2 separate regions of the Homo sapiens genome follow, and region 1 is linked to region 2. Evidence: fine-mapped expression QTL. Tissue or cell type: whole blood. Region 2 holds a variant in brackets; the other region holds the start of a gene. All regions are shown on one strand. Distances are between the middles of the regions.

Region 1 (8,090 bases), 43 kb after region 2:
GATAACATTCAAGAGCAGCTGGCACTCACAGCAGAAAACAAAAGCCTTCCCAGATTGGGTGACTGATAAAAAAACAGTCACTGGAGAATTGTTTGTCTGAGATGTTGTGTTTGGATTTTTTGGTGTTCTTATTTTGTTTTTACTTAAGATGAGAATGAGATGCCTGGAAAAAGAACACTCATTCAACAAATATTTGTTCATCAGCTACTGTGTGCCAAGCACGGTGTTAGTTACTAAACACTGACGCTCCATGTTCCTTCTTGAGAAACTCCACACTGGAACTTCTCAAGCCCCACAATGGCCTGAGAAGGAGGGGAAGATAAATAGGTCACCTTCATACCCAGAAAGATCCCTACCTGGACCACAGTTCTGAAACCAAACAACCTTACAGCAAAGCAGCTAAATATGGGAATAAACTGTGCCAGGTGGGAAAGAAAAGAGGTTAAAAGGGTCAGCTGAAGGCTCCTACTCAGAAGAGCTTAGCTGACGGGGTGGCCCATAACACCACTTCTCTCCCCAGCCAGACTCCCAACAAATGTGAAAAACCCAAACCCAACTCAGCGTCTGGCACTTTAAGAGCAAGGCAAGACCTGCTCTCACCTGAGCTTTCTGACCCAATTACCAAGTCCTGCAACTGAAACCTTCCCCCTGGGAGCATAGTGGGTAGGTCAGGTTGGCACGCAGTGTTCAAGTACCCCCATGTAGTTGGCCTTGAATTACGGTGTTTTGTAGGGCAGCATGTGAAACCATCAAACCATGGAGTGCATTATAAGCCTTATAAGGAGGAGGGGATGCATATTCTCTCAACGGCTAGTTCTACCTTCTGCTCCCCAGTCCTATCACTACTGAAAGGGGGATGGAGCAAGAGAAGGAAAAAGAGGATAGGGAAATAGGCACCAAACCAGTCAATCTAGTAAAGAGCTTTTGAGAATTTCCATTGCAATACTGGTAAGTGCTGTGTTTGGGCCTGTCAGACATTAAAATCCAACTCTTGACTGATAGTGGACTGGAAGAAAAGTCCAAAAGGACTTATTGTAGTTGATCCAAATCCCACCATGCAAAAATTAAGGCAATCAGGCCAAGACCAGGAGCTGCACCTGATGATGGGAAAGGAGAAGCAGCCACCCACAGAAATCAGTGATTAAGATCTAGAGCCCTGGGTTCTCAGTGTTCTCCTAAGATGGGACTACACAAGAGCAGCCTTGCCTCAGCCCCATGGAAGGAGCCCCAGCCTGCCCTCCTCCAAGCCCATGCCCTGCCTCTCTCACTGTAAACCCTCTCCACCTTCTGAAAGTCAGCCAAGATCTCCCCCACTCACCACCCAGTAACTACAAGTCTAAAAACAGGCAGAGATGGAACAATTGAAAACCCAAATGGCCAAGACAGAAACATTCATTACGTCACAACCACAGGCTGCAATATTAAGTAGCCATTAACAACAGGTGTCAGAATTTGTATTATACTCAAGGAAATGTTTACAATATGAAGTTGTGGGGGCAGGGGGAAACAGCATACAACTTGACTGTGTAGCACTATCTCCATCTTGTAACACAGCATATACTTGCATACATGTGCACATACACACAGAACTGAAAAAAGGAAATAAATACAACAATGCAACAAAATATTTGTAATGGTTATCTAGTGATGCAACTATGGGTGCTTTTTACATTCTCCCATATACATTATATATGATTCATATTTTCCTACAATGATATGTTTCAATTTATAATTTAAAAAACTACAAGTAATTTTTTCTTAACCTCAGGACAATAAGACATTTCTTATGAAGGATGGTAACAACAATCCTTTGTATCTGTGTAGGCTTTACAATTTTTACATGAACCTTTACCTAACATGTCTGATTTCATCCTCATAAACCTGAATGTGATATTACTATCCCCATTTTACATCTGGGCTGAGGTGCTTTATTTCCTAAGTCACAGTGTTCTGTACCAAACCCTGCCACTGCACCTTGTCTTCCATGTCCCTCTCATCTTCTGCGCACCAAGAAAGTAAACTAAAAACATCAACAAAGATCCCAGCAGCATAGAGGGCCAATAAAGTGATTGAGGTGGAGACTGCATAACATCCACTCTCAAACACACCTAAATCAGAGTTCTCTTTCTAAACACTCTTGCCACCCAAATCCCAACGCCTGAAGAACCACCTTAGCCTAGTTGAACTCATCTTGGTATCTCTAGCTGCCATCACAGCAAAATGTAAGGCCTGTGTCTCTAACAGGTACTTAAACAGCCAAAGGACAATGATGCTAACCTATCTATTCCCCTCACAGTGAGCATAGAGGAGGGACACTTTCAGCCTCCTCCGAGCATAACTGTCCTCTCCCATACCCCTATTCTAGGGAGCAGGTCCTCCATAAACACCCTCATTGCCACCTCCATAGCTCCTCCCCAGACTAGTTTCCAGGGGCACTGCCACACAAAAGCCGAGATTTGGCCGTCAGTGGTTTTGCTCAGGTTAAAACACACGCCATTTCTCGCAGACAATTCTTAGCAGTCCCAGCTCTTCCCTTTCTCCTGAAAGAAATGAAATGCCATCGTCTAAGTTCCGTTCCTCAGGCTTCCCTGTTTAGCCCTGCTTAGGGGTAAACTGCAGGCCTCTAGTCAAAATGCCCACACCCTTCCCTTCTGCTGGATGGAAGCTGGGGGATGGCGAATGGGAGTTACAAGGTATTGAGTGCCACTGTCATACATCATACACACGTCTCATCCTAAACCACACTCCTGGGTCAACACCAGCTTTCACCAATCCCACCCAAGCGCCTTCCTCTCTCTATCCATCTCTTTTCCCTGACTTCCACTCTTGACATCCACCAAGAGAACAGGTTGGAACAGGATGACCCCTTTACCACAAAGCAGGCTCCCTGTAAAGAGTGACACCTCAGGCCTCCTTTCCAAGTCAGGCCTGGGAGACTTTCCCCATTCTCCACACCACCCTCCAGCCCCTTCGGGCAAAGAGGGCCCACCCCCAGAGCAACCACACCCCAGCGCCACCCTCCCCAGCACCTAGCTCCGCTCCTTGGAAATCCAAGGTTGTCTCCCAGGCCCAGGGCGAAGGGCCTAACTGTGCCAAACAGACTCAGGGAGGGAAGACAAACCGCCAATGCTCCAAAGCTCCTGGCCACCCTCACTCCAGTTTCCCAAAACGCCCACTAGGATCAAGGACCTGCGGACCTGGGAAGTCCCCTCTCTGGGACACAGGGGCCAGCCGCAAGTTGGTAAGACTGAAGGGGGCGCGGTGCTTTAGCTCTACCGGATAGTGGGGTTGTTGACGGCCGAGAGCAGTGCCCTCCGCTTCGGCGGTGGGGGTAGGGAGAGTAGACACAAGTGTAGATTCGAGAGGGGCCTAGCGCTACAGAACTGAGGCCGCCCCAAAGCTATCTGGAAAAGGGCGACAGGCACCCAGCCCCAGTGGGTACCCACCCCAAACACACAGATGCCCCCAAGCAAGTTCTCTCACCCCCTACAAACTCCGGGGATGGGTCCTACCCCACCCACGGGGGAGCCTCTCCTCCCTCAAGCTGGTCCCCAGAAGTTGGCGTACCCACCTTTGCTCAATCTGTCCACCAGAAGCGGACGTCCCTCCGAACCAAGTCCGCAGCGAAGATCACCCGTCGCTACCACGCTCCTCGACGTCTTAGCCAAGGGGCGCCTGGCTCTACCCAAGTAGGGACTGCAGGTTCCTCTCCCCGTCCCGCACCAGCCCTTACCTGCCCAGCCCAGGTGCGCCGAGCTCACGTCAGCGCCTCGCCCCAGGACGCCGCAGCCTTCGCATCCGCCCGGCCACGCCTCCCAGGTGTGGCCACGCCCCCCGGCGTTCGGGATTGGCGAGTTGCAAGAAATATGACACTCCGCGTTTCTGGGCTGCCCGGCCCAGCGGCGTCCGTCCAGCGTCCCACCCTACTCCTCCGCTTCTAACTCCGGCTAAGAAAGTCCCAGATTCAGGCCTAGCCTTACGGCTCAGGGCTGGTGGTCCTGGGAACTGGAAGCGACTGGGAGTTCAGATCTAAGTCGAGAGGGTGCCTCCCTCCTTCACGGCCCATAATTACCCTGCAGTATGCAGACAGTTAAGCACAAATAAGGGTTTTGAGATTCTGGGTTGGCCCTACTACTCGTGGGCCTGTGTAAGTGGAGTTGCACATGAAGAAGAGAACCAGGACACTTGGTCCTGTCTGGGAGAAGCCATAGGCTTTCAGGACTAGAATTCTACCTTTACTCTGCCTCTTACCCGTGTGACCCTGGGTAAGTTACTTAGCTTCTTGGCTTCTTGGTTTCAGTTTCCTCATCTCTTCAATGAGAATAATAATTCCTTCCTTCTTTTTTGTTGTTGTTTGCTTTTTTCTCTTTCTTTTTTCTTCCTTTTTTTTTTTTTTTTTTTTTGGAGATGGGGTCTTGCTATTAAGTTACACAGTCTGGTCTGCAACACCTGGGCTCAAGGGATCCGCCTCAGCCTCGCAAAGTGCTGGGATTACAGGCACTGGCACCCAGTTCAATTCCTTTTTTTTTTTTTTTTTTTTTTTTTAGGCAGGGTCTGGCTCTGTCATCCAGGCTAGAATGCAGTGGCACAATCATAGCTCAACCTCCTGGGCTCAAGCAATTATCCCACCTCACCCTCCCAAGTAACTGGAAATATAGGCATGGGTCACCATGCCCGGCTAATTTTTTTTTTTTTTTTTTAGAGACAGGGTCTGACTATGTTGCCCAGACTGGAGTTCCTGCTTCCTCTGATCACTATCGTGTAATGAGTAAAAGCATAGCCTCTGGAGCCAACTATTGGGGTTTAGACCCCAACTCCATCAGTTACTACAGACTTGGGAAAGTTTCTTAAGCTTTTTAGGCCCTGGTGTCTTATCTGTAGAAAGAGGTTAGTAATAGTACCTACCTCAGGGGTATTGTGGGAATTCAATAACTACATGTAAACTGCTTGCAACAATATTTAGCACTTATCAAGTGCTTTATATGTACTTGCAATTATTATTGGCATAAAGATTAAAAATACCATATAGACAGTGCGTCAGAGAACAAGAAGGCATTCCTTGTTATTACCTGAAATTCAAGTCCTGCATGTACCCTAACAGGTGCTTGATGAGATTGCCCTCACCTTCCTCATCTATCTAGAGGACCGGTTTGCAGGAGGCTGTGCAACAGTAAATGAGACTTTTAAAAATCCCCCACCCTCAACCACTGAGCTGTCGTAGGTGAAATGGGGCATGCGCAGGTCACTTAGGTTTTGGTGTTTAAAGTAATGAGTGAGAAACTGTGGAGGAGTGGTACAATGAGTTGAACTGTCACCCACATACAAAAAAATTTGTATTTGTATTTTGAAGTCCTGACCACCCCCACTGCAACCACAGCCAGATGTCAGAATATGACCTTATTGGGAGACAGGATCCTTATGGAGGTAATCAAGTTAAAACGTGGTTATTAGGGTGAGCCTGAATCCAATATGAATGGTGTCCTTATAAAAGGAGGAGATTTGGACACAGAGGCAGATACCCACAGAGGGAAGGTGATATGAAGAGACATAAAGAGAAGACAGCTAGCTGCAACCCAAGGAGAGATACCTGGAATAGAGCTCTTTTTTTTTTTTTTTTTTTCACATCCCTCAGACCCTTGATTTTAGACTTTTAAACTCCAGAACTATGAAACAAAAAATTTCTGTTGTTCAAGCCACCCACTCTGAGGTACATTGTTATGGTAGCCCTAGCATACTCATACAAGTGTGTTGAAGAGCCCCAGATTGATAATAATGTAGGCATGATTCCAAGTCCCAATTTAGCTTTGGAATGTAGCCAGCAAAGGCCTGGGAAGGCAGCAAGGCCCCAAGGCCTGACTCAGCCAGCCTCTGTCTCAACCACTGCCCTGTGGCCACTCTTCCCTTCACTGGGGGAAGGGCAAGCTCATCAGCACAGCTAGCTGTTTACTGCTGATGAGCTCACTAGACAAACAGCATCTTCCATCTGGCCCAGGGCTGGGCTCTGGGGACCAAACAAGCTCCACTGCAGGTGTATGAGAGGGATGAGGGGTAAGGCCATTGGGAGAGTGTCATTTGAGGGGAGTCAAAACCCCAGTGGCATACAAGTATGAGCCCACACACAGGCACTCACTTTTGCACCAGCTGAAATTCCCATGACTAAGGGGATGTCTTAAGGACCTTCTTTAGAAGACATATATTTTGGAATCAGAAAACTCAAGCTGGGAGGGTTCTTCTGGACTATCTAGATCAAGACTAAAACTGACTTAGCCAGTTTTTACCCACACAGTATTTTAAATATCAGGAGGTATCACATAAACATCAAAATTCTCAGCATCTCTTAAAGAGTCAAGTGCCCTGGATGCTCTACCAGCAGTTCTACCTGGCAACAGTTGCCCATTTAGAGGGAGTCTACACGTTACAGCCAATACAAACTCACTCTATTGAGCTCACTAATTTACTTTAATTGCCTGACCCTGTAGGCATCTGATTGCAACTTCTAGTCTAAATTCTCCCTTTTCATAGATGAGAAAACTGCGGCCCAGCGAGGTCAAGTGATTTACTCAAGGTCACATGGCATATTAGCCACAAACCAAGACTAGAACACAAACCCGGGGCTCTATCCACTTGGACCCCTGCTCAGCTCCGCAGCCAAAGTCTATTCTGACCTGTTCTGCACTGGCTGTTAACGATTTAAAAAAAAAAATCGCCAGGTGCAATCGCTCACACCTGTAATCCCAGCACTTTGAGAGGCTGAGGCGGGCAGATCACCTGAGGTCAGGAGCTGGAGACCGGACCGACCAATATGGTCAACTCTACTAAAAATACAAAATTAGCCAGGCTTGGTGGCGCATGCCTGTAATCCCAGCTACTCGGGAGGCTGAGGCAGGAGAATTGCCTGAACCCAGGAAGTGGAGGTTGCGGTGAGCCGAGATTGCACAATTGCACTCCAGCCTGAGCAACAAGAGGGAAACTCCATCTCAAAAAAAAAAAAAAAAAAAATCACCCATGGATCTAGGTACTGTTGATATTGTTGATATTGCCATAAACAAAACCAAGTCCCTACTCTCATGTCACTCAACTGAAGAATTAATGAAAGGGGGTAAAGCAGGTGGAATTAAGGTAGAGATCAGGAGGAACTCCCCGGCTCTGCAGGCAACAAGCCCTGACAATAGGCCACCCTGATGTCTTCTATTCTGATACACGCCTCATCTGCTTGATCTGGGGAATAAGAACATCTTGTGAGTCTTTCCACAAGCTCTTGAGGAATCAGTTCTTCTGTATTCTCAAAAGAGCCTCTTCAGGATTCAGTCATTCCCAACATGCCCTGGGCCTGCAATGCTCCCATCATTTTGCCCTCCATTGATAATCAGGTGCGGCATTGCTGACTCACTAGTGAGTCTGAGTTTCAGGTAGTGGGACGTACATTTCAGCACGGGGGCCCTGATTCACAGCCACAGGGAATGAGGGAATTCCCCTCTCCTGTTCCCAGTCAGCTCTCATTTGGTAGGAAAGAGTTTCTTTTTCCACCCAGAGACTTTAAACTCTACAATATCAGACATGTGACAATAAAACCATGAACCCAAATCCCACTCTCTTCTTGGCAGAGCAGAAAGCGTGGCAACTGGGACTCCTCCCAAAGGCTCCATACAGTGGAGAGTTTAGTGTTACTGGAGTTGGTGATAGCAAAGAAGCTGTGCACCTTTGGTGGAGTTGCTAAAGAGTCAGGTAGGGACATTGCACTAAACAATCCAATTCTGTGCTTTCAAAGGAAATCAGACTCCAACCTTCCTTCTGGAAGGCATTCTGGAGCCCATCAGGTCTACCCTCACTTTTCTCTTGGCCCTGGCTTATCTCTGTCTCCATCCAAGTATCTTAAAGCATCAGGGCCACAGGTGATCCTAACACATTGCCTAAGCCACAGCCTAAACTGAATGCACTCTGGTTGTTGCACTCTATAATGGCCTCCAAATTCTAGAATCACCAAGATGGCAGGAAGCATAAAAGAATCTCACTTTCCAATCCAAGCAATGGCACAGACTTTGGCTTTGGACTCTAGAAGAATTCTCCACCAAAGTGTTCAGAACATCTTC
Region 2 (8,104 bases):
TACCACCATGTCCTCAGTTTTCAACCCACATGGATGGAACTCTGTGCTATTTCTGCCCCCTGGTCTAGGGAGATAGTCATTTTTCTGCCCATCTTCTGACCCCTCCCCTTCTCCTCCCTCTTGGCATTTGGCAGATCCAGGCATCTATTCCAGGAACTGGAAGCCAAGCGCAACAGGTGCTTGGAGGTCATCATGATCAGCCCAGACCCCAGGCCCTCCCCTGGCTTGGCCCGGTGGGCTGAGAGCTATGAGGCCAAGTGTGAGCGCAGGCAAGAGATCCGTGAAAGCCGCCGCTGCCGTCCCAATGTGACCACTTGCCGCCAGGTGGGGAAGACGCTGAGGATCCAACAGAGAGAGCAGCTCCAGAGAGCTCGACTGCAGCAGTTCTTCAGGAGGAGGAACCTGGAGCTAGAGGAGAAGGGCAAAGCGCAGCATCCCCAGGCCAGGGAGCAAGGGCCCTCCAGGCGGCCAGGACAGGTGACTGTCCTCAAGGAACCCTTGTCTTGTGCCAGAAGGATTTCTTCTCCCAGAGAGCAGGTGGGCCGTGTCAAGGGACATACTGCTGTGTGCTCTGGGACCCTCTCTGGACAAGGAGGGTGGGTGGGCTCAAGGTCACTAAAAAGTGACCTAAATCAAGTCCTTCTTCCTCAGTCATATAGTAAAGTTGCCAAGAGCTACTTATAGTAAAGTTGCCAACAGCTACTTATTCAGAGATTTTTGCTGTTGTGTTTTCGTTTGTTTAGCTCTTTTTGTTCTGCACTTGACTTATAAGAGAGAAAAAATAATTTTTAAAAACAATTTCAGGCTGGGCATGTTGGCTTATACCTGTAATCCCAGTACTTTGGGAGGCCAAGGCAGGAGGATCACTTGAGGCCAGGAGTTCGAGACCAGCCTTTTGATAGAGACAAGACCCTGTCTCTATCAAAAACTTTACAAACTAACCAGGCATGGTGGTGCACACCTGTAGTCCTAACTAATCAGGAGGCAAAGATGGGAGGATTACTTGAACCCAGGAGTTTGAAGCTGCAATAAGCTATGATCACACCATTGCACTCCAGCCTGGGCAAGAGAGGGAGACCCTATCTCTAAAAAACTTAAAAATAAAATAAATAAAAATAATTCCAAAGCTAATGCCTATATCAGTTCAAATTTAGGCAATATACACATGTCTTCTACAGCTATCTTACAGCATTCATTCATCCATCAGTCATCAAATATTTACTGAAAGCTTATTATATGCCAAGCACACAGGCCAGTCTTCTTGACACACACACAGACATATCTGTCCTCTTTTCTTCTGCAAGGCTGTTGTGCCCACTCTTCTCACTTCCTCTTGTGTCATTCCAATTCTATTAAATCACTTGACTATAGCCTCATCTGGTCCAGGAAGCTTTCCCTGGCTTCTCCAGGCCACCTCTGCTGTCTATGGGCCTTGTGAGGTTAAAATCTTCTAAGATTGTGTAACCCTTAGAGGGCCCATTAGTCTGGCCTGGAAAGGAACAATGTTGGCAAAAACCAGGGTATGCTGAGATGACCTTGGCCAGCAAACCATCTTCCTACTGAAGTTGTGAGCATGTTGACAGCAGGGATGTGTCCACTATGTTCCATGGTAATGCTTGGCATTGTTCCCTACCCAGAGTGGGTACTCTATCAGGGCTTCTTAACTAGTGGATCTGTTATGCTCAATAGGAGATGCTGTTCAGAGAAATGATCCTAGAGCCCAGTTGCAAAAGAAAAGGAACTGTATACTAAAGCAAAAAACCTTCCCACAACTCCCCACTTTACCTAGTCTTCACACAAAACCTCAATGATTTTCTAGCTGTTACTAAGAGAAAGGAGGCTTTCCTTTGAATATGGAAGGAACCTTATGGATTATCTATTCCAAACTCCTCACTACACAGACAGAAGACTGAGACCTAGAAAAGATGGGATCTGAACCCAGATCCCCTCACTCCCCACTCAGACCAGTTCTCTTTCCACATCACCATGCTGGCTATGTAAGTGGCCATAACCAAACAAGGTAGAGAGAGAAAAAAAAACAACAACTAGAGATTCTAGAGAGAAAACCTGGAGAAAAGTACAGCTCCACATATGCCTGGCCTGAGGAGGACCATTTCTGCCAGTCAGGACAAGGATATCAGGAGCAGGAGAAGCCTGTGTGGCTCTGAAAGCTTGAGTGGGCTACTTTGGTTTTGTGGATCTGAAACATTGTCTTCGTCCTGTAATGAATTACCACAGACTGGGTGGCTTAAATAACAGAAATTTATTTCTTACAATTCTGGAGTCTGGAGTTCTAAACCCATGGATTCTGCAGATCTGGTGTCTGATGAGAGCACTCTTCCCACTATGCAGATGGCCTTCTTCTCATTGTGTCCTCACAAGGCAGAGAGCAGAGAGAGAAAGCAAGCTCTCTCGTGTCTCTTCTAATAATGGCACTAATCCCATTCATGAGGGCTACCTGCTCTGACCTAATTATTTCTCAAAGTCTCCACCTCCTAATACTATCACATTGGGAGATAGGATTTCAACACACAGATTTGGGCGGGGGGACAATAAACACTCAGTCCATAACAAACATGATGGTTAGTTCTTCCTTCCGAAATCATCAGGAGAGTCTTTCAAGAGGCTCCAGGCAGTGGTTTTCAGCATTCCCCACTTGCCTTCCAGGTGACAGGCACCAGCTCTGAAGTCTTTCCAGCCCAGCATCCTCCTCCCTCAGGCATCTGCAGGGATCTGTCTGACCACCTCTCCTCACAGGCTGGGGGCCTTCCTCCACAGGACACTCCCATCAAGAAGCCACCCAAACACCACCGTGGTAAGAGCAGAGCCTCCCTCACTCCACAGGGCCTGCAGAGAATCCTGAGACAACTGTCCCAGCTCACTGGCAATGGAGAGTCCCTGTCCCTCCCCACTTCCCTCACTTCCTCCCTGTAAGTTCTAAATCAACTTATCCTCCATCTCTCAGGTACTCAGACAAAGGCAGAAGGACCAACAATTAAGAACGATGCCAGTCAGCAAACCAAGTGAGTTCCTGACCCTAACCCTCTCACATCCCATCCATTCCTCTCTAGAGAGAACACAATGAATTTCCATGTCCGCCTTAATTAAGAAAGAGGAAGCCCTTCCCCACCCTACTGGCTCTTCAGAAGGAATCAACCCACTGCCTCCTGACTTGATTCTTTGGTCCATTATCATTATTTTTAATTTCTTCTCTTTCCAGTTACGGAGTTGCAGTTCTGGATAAGGTAAGCACATATTCACTTTGAAGGGGTCAAATCAGAAAGTATTAAGCTCTGACATTCTGGAATTCCATGATAAACTTGGCTGGGATGGAGGGGCATCTTCTTCCTGGATGGCAAGGGGGTACTGAGCATAGACATGGGGACTAAAGGGACCCTGTCAGAGCCAAAGCAGAAGAGGTTTGCTCTACACAAGCCAGCCCAGGCTCTGGTTCTATATCCCAGGGTTTCAGGGGACTTACAGACATTTTGAATACCCTTGTTCTTTCTCTCCAGGAAATCATCCAGCTTTCTGATTACCTCAAAGTAAGTGGCATGTGACCCCTCCCCTCAGTTCCTCCATCCACTTACCCCCGATCCTCCAGGTTAATCTTACCCTCTTGCACTTTGTGCCCGCACCCCCAGGAGGCCCTACAAAGGGAGCTGGTCCTAAAACAGAAAATGGTGATTCTCCAAGACCTACTGTCCACTCTGATTCAGGCCTCTGACAGCTCTTGGAAGGTAAGGGAATGAAATTCTTTTTGAACAAAGCTTGGGCTTCTATGTGTTCCCATCTCATTTTTCTTTCCACATCATCACAGTAAGAGAAGGGGTTTTCTCACTACTGAAAAGTAAGCTGGGAAGAGGCAGGAGATGAGGGGGATGGTGCTCAGACCTAGAAGTCAAACAGGTCACAATAAATATATGGGTCATCACCTGAGGGTCATGGTGCTACATATCCAAGGAAGACCCAGAAACAAAAGTGGCAAGAATTCCCATTTTTTAATTTGTTGGAAGGAATGAAGGAAGATCCCAATATAGTTTACATTACTAAATATGCTAAATGTCAAATATTTTCATATGGGATTCCCACTGATATTTATCGAAACCAGCATGCCATGTACCCACTCAGTCCGAATAAAAATATCAGAGTGGGAAGGGACCTTAGAGACAATCTGGCCTAATACTCTCATTTTGCCCATGAGGAAACTGAGCTTCATAGGGGTCAAGTAACTTGCGAAAAGTCACACAGCTAGGTAGTGGCAGATCTGCAACTAAAATTCAGGCCTTTGATTTTAGTCCATTCAATGTACAATATTCATAGGTTATGTCCTCTATACAGAGCACTGGACTAGCACTAGAAATAATGAGATTATTTAGATAGGGTTCTTGCTTTGAGAAGGCTCACGGTTTTGTAAGAAAGACACATGACTAAACAATACAAAAACATGAAAAATAAAAGAAATGTTTTCAAGATATAGGAAAATACAAGAAGGAATGAGTGACTCCAGAGAAGAAAAGAGCCAGGGGAATACTTATATAAGCATTTGCCAGGAAAATATGGAAGAAGGAATAGTATTTTAGTTGGGGTACAGGCAAAGGTCTAAAGGCAAGGCC[G/A]GGGGTGGTGGCTCACACCTGTAATCCCAGCACTTTGGGAGCCCGAGGCGGGTGGATCACCTGAGGTCAGGAGTTCAAGACCAGCCTGGCCAACATGGCGAAACCCCGTCTCTACTAAAAATACAAAAATATTAGCTGGGTGTGGTTGCACATGCCTGTAATCCCAGCTACTCAGGAGGCTGAGGCAGGAGAATCGCTTGAACCAAGAAGGCAGAGGTTGCAGTAAGCTGAGATCACCTCATTGCACTCCAGCCTGGACAAAAGAGCGAGACTCCATCTCAAAAAAAAAAAAAAAAAATCTAAAGGCATGACACAGTCTAGTAAAATGGTTCTCCAATTTTTTTATTTCAGGATTCCTTTATACTTTTTAAATTATTGAAAATATATAAGAAATGTTTATATTTACCATACTAGAAATTAAAACAGTTGGCCAGGTGCCGTGCATCATGTCTGTAAATCCCAGCACTTTGGAAGGCTGATGCAGGAAGATCACCTGAGGTCAGGAATTAGAGACCAGCCCGGCCAACATGGCAAAACCCTGTCTCTACTAAAAATACAAAAATTAGCCAGGCGTGGTGGTGCACACCTGTAATCTCAGCTACTCCGGAGGCTGGGCCACGAGAATCGCTTGAGCCCAGGAAGTGGAGGTTGCAGTGAGCGATGATAGTGCCACTACACTCCAGCCTAGATGACAGAGCAGGACTCTGAGAGACAGGAGAGAGAGAGAGAGAGAGAGAGAGAGAGAGAGAGGGAGAGAGAGAGAGAGGAAGGAAGGAAGGAAGGAAGGAAGGAAGGAAGGAAGGAAGGAAGGAAGGAAGGAAGGAAGAAATTAAGATAGAAATTGAGAAAGAATTATTAATTTTAAAATAATGAGAGTAAAATTTTTCATGCTAACCTGAATTACATGTTTTAAGAAAAACAGTCTGGGTGCGGTGGTTCACACCTGTAATCCCAGACTTTGGGAGGCCAAGGCAGGTGGATCACTTGAGCTCAGGAGTTCAAGACCAGCCTGGGCAACATGGCAAAACCTCGTCTCTACTAAAAATACAAAAAATTAGCCAGGTACATTGGCATGCACCTGTAGTCTTAGGAACTCAGGAGGCTAAGGCAGGAGAATCTCTTACGTCCCAGGGGTGGAGGTTGCAGTGAGCCAAGACTGCACCACTGCATTCCAGCCTGGGCGATGGGAGTGAAACTCTGTCTCAAAAAAGAAAAAGAAAAAGAACCATATTTTCAAAAACAAAATTAGTGACAGGAGTATCATTGCTTTACACTTTTGCAAATATTTTTAATGTCTGGCTGAAAAAAAAGACAGCTAGCTTCTCAATTTGCTTCTGTATTCAATCTATTGGTTTAAACATAAAGAAAAATTCAGTTTCACACAAATATGTCATTAGAAAAAGTAAGACTTTGCTGATCCCTTAAAAGGGTCTTGGGGATTCCCAAGTTTCCTCAGAATCCCCATGTTGAAACCTGTAAATTAGTATGTACTATAAATTCATGTATTAATATGAGCTACAAGCAGCTTGACACCACCAAAGCATACCGCACCGGGTGGAAAGAGATGGAGCACACAACCTCACCGGCCTGTGTGACATCTCACCCTACCTTGAAGATGGCTTGAGCAGAGAAAGAAAGATGATGGGAGAGTATGGAACAAAACTGAGAAGTTGCAGTGATGTAAAAAAGATTTCCTAAGCTCAGCCCTGCTCCTCACGTCAGACATTGTACCTGGATTTCTCAATCTGTGGTCAGAGCTCCTGATTGTTAGGTCATTTTCATTGACAGAGCAGGAACTTGGGGCAGACAGCTGTGCACGTGAGGTGGTTTCTGGTCCTGAACTAAATTGAGATCATCTCACTCATTTGTTTGACAGTCATTTGATAAGTTCCAACTCTGTGCTGGGCCTTGTGCTACAGGGGCAAAGAGCATTACAGTCCTAACTCTTGAGGAGCTCACAGTCCAGCCATGAAGACAGAGACATGTAATAAATAACACCAAAACAGTATAATAAGGCTATAGCAGCAGTGCATAAAGCATGATGCAGGAAAAAGAGAAAGAAGGCAGCAATTATTCCACCTGAGGTGGAACAGGGAAGGCTTTAAAGGAAGGAAACCTGGCCAGGCACGGCAGCTCATGCCTATAATCCCAGCACTTTGGGAGGCCAAGGCAGGTGGACCACTTGAGGCCAGGAGTTCAAGACCAGCCTGGCCAACATGGCGAAAACCCGTCTCTACTAAAGATACAAAAATTAGCTGAGCGTAATCGTGCATGCCTGAAGTCCGAGCTACTCAGGAGGCTGAGACACAAGAATTGCTTGAACCCAGGAGGTGGAGGTTGCAGTGAGCTGAGATTGTGCCACTGCACTCCAGCCTGGGTGACGGAGCAAGATTCTGTCTCAAAAAATAAAAATAAAGGAAAGAAACCATTTTAGCTGAATCTTGAAGGATGAGTAGGAGCTAACCAGTAGAGAAGCAAGAGTGATGATGAGGGAAAAAAGCAGAAAGTAGAAGAGTGTTTAAGGTAAAGGAATTGGAATGATTACAGGCCTATGTATGGCAAAGAATTGGGTATAGCAGAGTATGGCTGAAATGAAGGTATGCCAGAGTAGTACCAAAGAAAGGATCTCAGACAGGTCTTTAGAATTATGGGTCTTAAACTTTTTCTGTTGAACAAGGTATCTCAAACTTGAATAATGCATGGACCCATTTTTAAAGGAAACCCATATATGTATATATATAAAATCAGAGATCCTTTAGAATGCATGCTACCCAGCTTGAGAAACACTGCTATAGGTAATAAGCTGAGTAAGAATGGAACTATGCTTTATTGAGGTATAAAGTCCTACACTTAGCAATGTCTGGCTCATCCTTAGAAGGTATGCAATTACTATCTGAGGAAATGACTTGTGAATGATCAGATCTGTGTCTTAAAAAGTTCTGTAATTTCCAACTGGATGCAGTGTCTCACACCTGTAATCCCAACACTTTGGGGGGCCAAGGCAGAAGGATCACTTGAGTGATCAAGACCAGCCTGGGCAACATAGTGAGACCTCATCTCTATTAAAAATAAAAAAATTAGCCATGCATGGTGGTACACACCTATAGTCACAGCTACTTGGGAGGCTGAGGCAGGAGGATCGCTTGAGCCCAGGAGGTCCAGGCTGCACCACTGTACTCCTGCATGGGGTAACAGAGCAAGACCCTGTCTTGAAAAAAAAAAAAGAGGGGGGAGGGTTCAAGGATTATCTAACTTGTAGCAATAAGAACCCTGGCTCCAAGCAGGGGTTGGGGGAGTTGAGACTCTTGTAATATCCCAGGTAAGACACAACCAGAGCTTGAATCAAAGCAAGCTTTGTGGGAATGAGGGGGGATATATTAAGAGACATTTCTGGGTTTGTCTCCAAGGAGGAGTTTCACCCCATGCTCCAGCCCAAGAGCAGAAGTTCCCTTGGTTGTGGTTTCCTCCCTCCCTTCTTCTCACCCCTC

Evidence for each region. PIP is the estimated chance that this variant, and not a neighbour inherited with it, causes the effect.
Region 1: it holds the start of IRF6, and the variant in region 2 is fine-mapped to the expression of IRF6 in whole blood (INTERVAL, PIP above 0.99).

The regions. Positions count from the first base shown.
Region 1 is chr1:209,802,376-209,810,465 of GRCh38, forward strand. IRF6 (interferon regulatory factor 6) reads right to left here and starts at 3,767. Exons shown (of 9, transcript NM_006147.4): 1 at 3,572-3,767. RefSeq lists a silencer at 3,689-4,032.
Region 2 is chr1:209,759,848-209,767,951 of GRCh38, forward strand. It overlaps TRAF3IP3 (TRAF3 interacting protein 3), which reads left to right. Exons shown (of 17, transcript NM_025228.4): 3 at 135-537; 4 at 2,668-2,815; 5 at 2,966-3,023; 6 at 3,221-3,245; 7 at 3,516-3,545; 8 at 3,645-3,740. The coding sequence starts at 193. Among named protein-coding and RNA genes, the nearest start is that of TRAF3IP3, 7.8 kb to the left of the region's middle. The variant G/A (reference allele first, on the strand shown) is at 4,617.